Linked DNA regions of Homo sapiens: region 2 is linked to region 1. The links come from fine-mapping of genetic effects on gene expression. A gene starts in region 1. The other region holds a variant in brackets. All regions are shown on one strand. Distances are from middle to middle.

What was found. PIP is the estimated chance that this variant, and not a neighbour inherited with it, causes the effect. A credible set is the group of variants that fine-mapping cannot tell apart.
Region 2: its variant is the best candidate, but not a certain one, in a credible set for the expression of ATP8B4 in whole blood (INTERVAL, PIP 0.75).

Annotation. Positions count from the first base shown.
Region 1 is chr15:50,117,447-50,120,261 of GRCh38, reverse strand. ATP8B4 (ATPase phospholipid transporting 8B4 (putative)) reads left to right here and starts at 1,029. Exons shown (of 28, transcript NM_024837.4): 1 at 1,029-1,139.
Region 2 is chr15:49,887,695-49,890,509 of GRCh38, reverse strand. All of the region lies in intron 23 of ATP8B4 (ATPase phospholipid transporting 8B4 (putative)), which reads left to right. Among named protein-coding and RNA genes, the nearest start is that of ATP8B4, 230 kb to the left of the region's middle. The variant T/A (reference allele first, on the strand shown) is at 1,398.

The DNA.
Region 1 (2,815 bases):
CTTGGTAGGAAAAGGCCCTTGTTTCTGTGAAAACCTGAGGGCCCAGCGTGAGGATGTTCCAGGAGAGTGGAGTTGATGGTGCGCAGGGGATTAGCTTGCTCTGGTTATAGAGACATGATTAAAATCTATTTGATTTCAGTACTTAACTGGCAAATCTGATGCAACTTCTGGAAAATTCCTAGATGGCTTTAGGCATATTTAAAAGAAGCCATATTTTTCCTTTTAAAAATAGATATGCACCAAAATATTTTATTTTCATCTAATCCCGCTTTAACAACCAGAATCCCCTTAAAAGCAATTCCAAACTAAAAGATGTAAATCCATTTCCTATGTGCATTTGTTCTTTGGTACCATCAGGGTTAATGTTTGCATCCTCTGTGCTGAAATTAAGGATGTTGGGAAAGAAGTGTCATTGCTTTGCCTACTAAATGTCACTTGAGTATGCTTAGCTTTCATCCATAAGAGAGCTGAACTTCCCCTGTAAAAAAAAAAAAAAAAAAAAAAAAAAAGTGACAAAAACCCACTGCTGATTCTTTCATCTCTGCAAAAGCAGGTGGGAACTGCAAACAGATTTGCTTATCTTCCTCAGTCAAGGGCTGGTAAAAGTTTGGTAAGTAGGCCTGGTAGCCGGTGTCCCCTTCCATTGTTCATTTTCATCCTCCTGAATTCTTGATTCCCACAGAGGAAGCCATCCTCAGAAGCCAGCCTCTTGGGAGTTTCCTTTTGTTTCCCCAAGATTAACCAGTTCTGTCCTGTCAGCAGGAGCAGGCAACTAGGGGAGGAGAGGCTCTTCAGGGCTTTCAGCATTTTTCCAAGGAGTGCTTTTCTCCCTCAATTCCTCACTGACAGTGAAGCTGCTTTCTTGTAAGGTCTTCCTCTTCTTCTGATGAGATGCTGATTCTGATTGCCATCTAGCAGCTTCCGGTGGTGGTAAGTGGTCAAGAGTGTTTTTCCAGGAGTTGATCTCAGGTTTTTGAGAATGCCCCCTAGAGACCCAGTTTGTTTTCTGTATCATCCCTCAAGCTTTCAGAGTAGCCTTGCTTTTCTCCTTGGCATGGTCACGGAATGGATACCTGTTTGATCTTCCTGCACTGCTGAGAAATCTTCCTTTTGGGGGAGAGGATTAAGTCTGGGTTGAGGTGAGTAGATGGGTAGCATTCAATGGTTAGTGAGATGAAGTGGAAATTTAGCTGTGGGCTGGTTGGAACGATCTGTTTCTTTTCTCCAGATCCCTATTTTGTTTTGCTGTTTTCATCTTGGTGACTAAGGTTTCACAAATATTCTTTATTATTCCCCTTTTGCTAAAAAATAAATTTGGGGGAGTTAGTTGGAAATGGGAGATGTGACATTTTCTTTTTTGTTGTTTGAAATGTCTATTTTTTACTCTGTTAGCATGCCTATTAAATGACCAATGATAGTAGCATAAAGGTACATTTCTTCTTGGTTTGTAGGTCTTTGTCACTTCCTTTGGTAGTAGTTGGTTTTATTTTTTTCACGGGGTTTGTATACAGTGCACCTATTCAATATATTGTTTATGGTCAATTTATGCTTTAGACATGAACAGTTTGCACTGAGCTATCCCTCTGAGGTTTGAGGGTTATGTTTTTAGTGCTAAAATTTGTCTGAACAGAAAAAGGTATCCTTCTAGTTGTTTTGTTTATAGGCAAGAGAGTGTCTCAGGTCCCTGGTTAACAATTAGCTGTTTTGAAGAAAAGAAAACTGGTGAAAAACATTAATTGGAAGCTGAAGTCTTGTTAGAAAGTAAATGAGGAAACACAGGTTTTCTTGTGGGATTACCAACACCTGTGCCCATGAAGTATCCCCTTTTACTCAGCTGTTGCTCCATGCTGGCCTTTACTACAAAATGTAAACTCAGAGTGATTTCAGTTTTGATTTTTTTAAATGTATTTTTTATTTTTTATGTGATATGTAATAACTGCACATATTTATGGGGTACATGTGATATTTTGGTATATGCATACGATGTGTAATTAGCATATATATCACCTCAAACATTTACCATTTCTTTGTGTTGGGAACATTCCAAATCTGCTAGCTATTTTGAGATACAATAAATTATCATTATCTATATCGTTTATTTTATCGTTTATATCTATATCGTTTATTATAAATAAAAAATAAATTATCATTATCTATTGTCATACTACCGTGTTATCAAATACTAGAACCTGTTCCTTCTATCTGACTGTATGTTTGTACCCATTAACCAGCCTACCTTCACCCCCTTCTTCCTCTTCCCCTTCCTAACCTCTGGTAACCACCATTCTCCCTCTCTACCTTCATGAGATCAACTTTTTTAGCTCCCACATATGACAGAGGATATGTGATATTTGTCTTTCTGTGCCTGGCTTATTTTGCTTAACATAATATCCTCCAGTTCCATCCATGTTGCTGCAAATGATAGAGTTTTATTCTTTTTCATGGCTGAATAATATTCCATTGTATATAAATACCACATTTAAAAATTTTATTCCTCAAGAAGAAATATTATTGCTTCCATATCTTGGCTATTGTGAATAGTGCTGCAATAAACAGGGGAGTACAGATATCTCTTCAAGGTACTTATTTCCTTTCTTTTGGATGTATTCCCAGAAGTGGGATTGCTGGATCATATGGTGGATCTGTTTTCACTTTTTTTGAGAAACCACAGAGTGATTTATTTTAACCTATATTGTGCCTTTATATTGTCTCATCATGCAGAAATATTTAAAAATGAGGGAACAAATGATTTTTTTTGTGCCCCTGGAGGATTTTTTTGTGGGTGGGAGAATTTTATTTTTTTCATATGTGGCAT
Region 2 (2,815 bases), 230 kb after region 1:
TCTTAGCCCCTAAAGCCCCTTAGATAGCCACTTACTTCCAGTCTTTTAAAGAAAGTCAGCTGTCTGAGGTCTTCCCACTCCCTGCCACCCCTCTCCTAAACTGCTTTAACAGGATTGAAAGCTCCATAGTGAAATGGAGCCAGTAGTAATAACTCCAAGGCCTGGCAGATTTGGTAATAGCCAGCATCTCTTTAGAGGCCATTCCTGGGTAGGCCTAATCTTCCATCACTTTCTCTGTCCAGTCCTGACAGCAGTGAGACTCTCACACATATTGTCCAATGCAGAACCTGTGGTCTGAATGCTTGCTCATTTACCAACAATAAACTGGGTGCCAATTTAGGGCCAGGTGCTCTGATGGCCCCCCAGGAACAACAGAGTGAATCAAAGGGATGCTGTTCCTACCCTCAAGGAACCTACAGTCTGGGAAAGATTTTATTTTCATAAATGCATAACAAATGTTGAAAAATCCCATAATCTCCTTTCTTTTATTTCTCTACCAAAAATTTCTTTTGGAATAAATTTACTATGGATAAGCCATGTCTTGGGGCCAACCCTGTCAAATCACAGCATGATTCATAAGCGCCTAAATATTCTTCCGTGTACCTCTCAACAGATTGTTTGGAAGTAATCCTTTCTTCAGCTGAAAACATCTGACCAAATGTAAACAGATTGTGTTTTTTAAGACACAATGTTGACTTTCTAAAACACCAGCTTAATTATTTAATGAAGTGACATGTGCTGTTTCTTTACTACATCAGTCTGCCTTTGGGGCCTGGTGGATTTTATCCAGGCAATTATTATCTGATGAGAGCTCCAGCAGATTCCAGCCAATGCCCCATCCTGGTAGGTGGGCTGGGGCACATGTGTAGGCAAATCCAGCTGTGGTGTGCAAGGCTTCAAGAAGGCCAATGGGTGGAAGCATTACTGCCTGTGGGATGGTGGCACTTAGGACATCTGTGATGGATGGTGATGTGATGTAGTCTGGGTTGTCGTTGGTTTATGGACTTTCCTCTGGTTAACTTCAGTACGTTGCTTATGTTGTGATTGGCTTGAGATGTACAGTGAAAAGAACCCGCGGACCAGACTCCCTTTTGTTTCCTATGTTGGGTGGAATTTCCTGGGAGAAGCAGCGGGAACAAAGAACAAAAAGTATGTATCTTGTTGAACCTAGAATCTTTACTCTGGCAGAGAATTTCAGGGACATTGAGTCCAGTCCCTCGTTTTACAGAGGAGGATCCTGATCCTGCAGGAGCTGAGGATCAGCGGTAGGCAAGGCTAGGACCGGAACCAAGTCTCCTGGCTCCCACTTCAGCGCTCTGCCTACTCTACCTGATGATAAGTGACCTCTTGGGTTGTCATAAATTTGGAAAAGCTAATGGCCATATCCTTTTTTTTTT[T/A]AAAAATACTGTCTTCCCTCAACCCCTAATCAGAAAATGTTTGCTTTATTTGGAATCTAAAGGAGAAATATCCAGAAACACTCAGTTCAATATGACTATGTGGAGGAAATGAGCTCTCTATTGAAAGAGACCTCATGACTTGCGGGGTGTGTCATAGCTTAGAGCTGTGGGAGGGACAGGCCTGTCCCTAGGCGAACTGTTTGTAGAATCATCTGGAAGCTTGAGGACACCTTCTGCTGGCAAACGCTCCAACTCAACTGCCACTGAGAAACAAATTAAATATAATTTGTTCTAATGAGATTTCCAGCCAGATTTCTGGAACAGAGAGGTTTGGATAAAGGAGACTAGGTCTCTAAACTGAATCATGGATTCTTTTTAAGGACATGCCTTATCCCAATCTATTATTGAAACCCACATGAGTTTTGTGGCATCCACTGTGGGTTTGGATTCACAATTTATACCTGTAACTTATTTTAAAAGCACCCTATGCCTTCAGGACTTTTCGTAAAGAGGAACTGTCCCCTACCAAGGATACAGCCAAATAAAAAAAATTGGTTGAAGTCCTATTTAGAAAATTCATGCTTAAAATTATGCAACTACTGGTACTGTGTACTTGTGAGATGATATTATCTGATGACAATTTATCATTGTCAGTGAGATACAGGGCTGTGTATTTTTTTTTTCTTCAATTCTACTGTGATATGGAAGCAATTATCTTGTCAAGGCTGGAAAAACTTTAGTTCTGTCAAACAGTATAATAAAGCAACAAAAAGTTTGGAAAGTGACGTGAAAGACTGCGACTAATCTTAAGGCTTTGATGACTTCATGGATTTGGTTACCTGTGAGCCCGTCTCCACCTGGCATGGTAGCTCTGCTCCCCCTCACCTTCCAGATGTGCTCTGGGGAAAGTCCAGGACTGGACGAGTGCTCAGGCCTGGGTCACTCCTCCTGGATGCTGCGAGCGGGTTTTTACTAATTACACAAATCAATAACAGATGTGCTGAGGCTGAGCACCTCATATTTATTCCACAATGTGTTTTCTTTAAATGACAAATGTTTTTTAAGGCCCCCAAAAGGTCATTAGATAGGTTTCCTCTGCAACACATAGGAAAAGGGGGATACACATCTCCAAAGAGGTAGTAAGTTCATCCTGTTATTTGAACAAGGAGCTCAGCCAGTGGTCGAGCAGAAAGAGCAGAGAAAGCCCTTTGCAGCTGTTTAAGAACTTTATTAAGGTTTATTTAAATGTGTCATTCTATAAATCATAGGTTTTGTGTTCTCCAAGCTGTTTTTAGATTGTAATTTGTAGCTGGAGTATTTTTAACTCTATGTAAAATGGTTGATAAGGCTGATAAATTGCTCCCATAAAGAAGGGAGCGAGGAGCTTTCCTTAAATAGAAAAAACAGTGAAGTTGGAA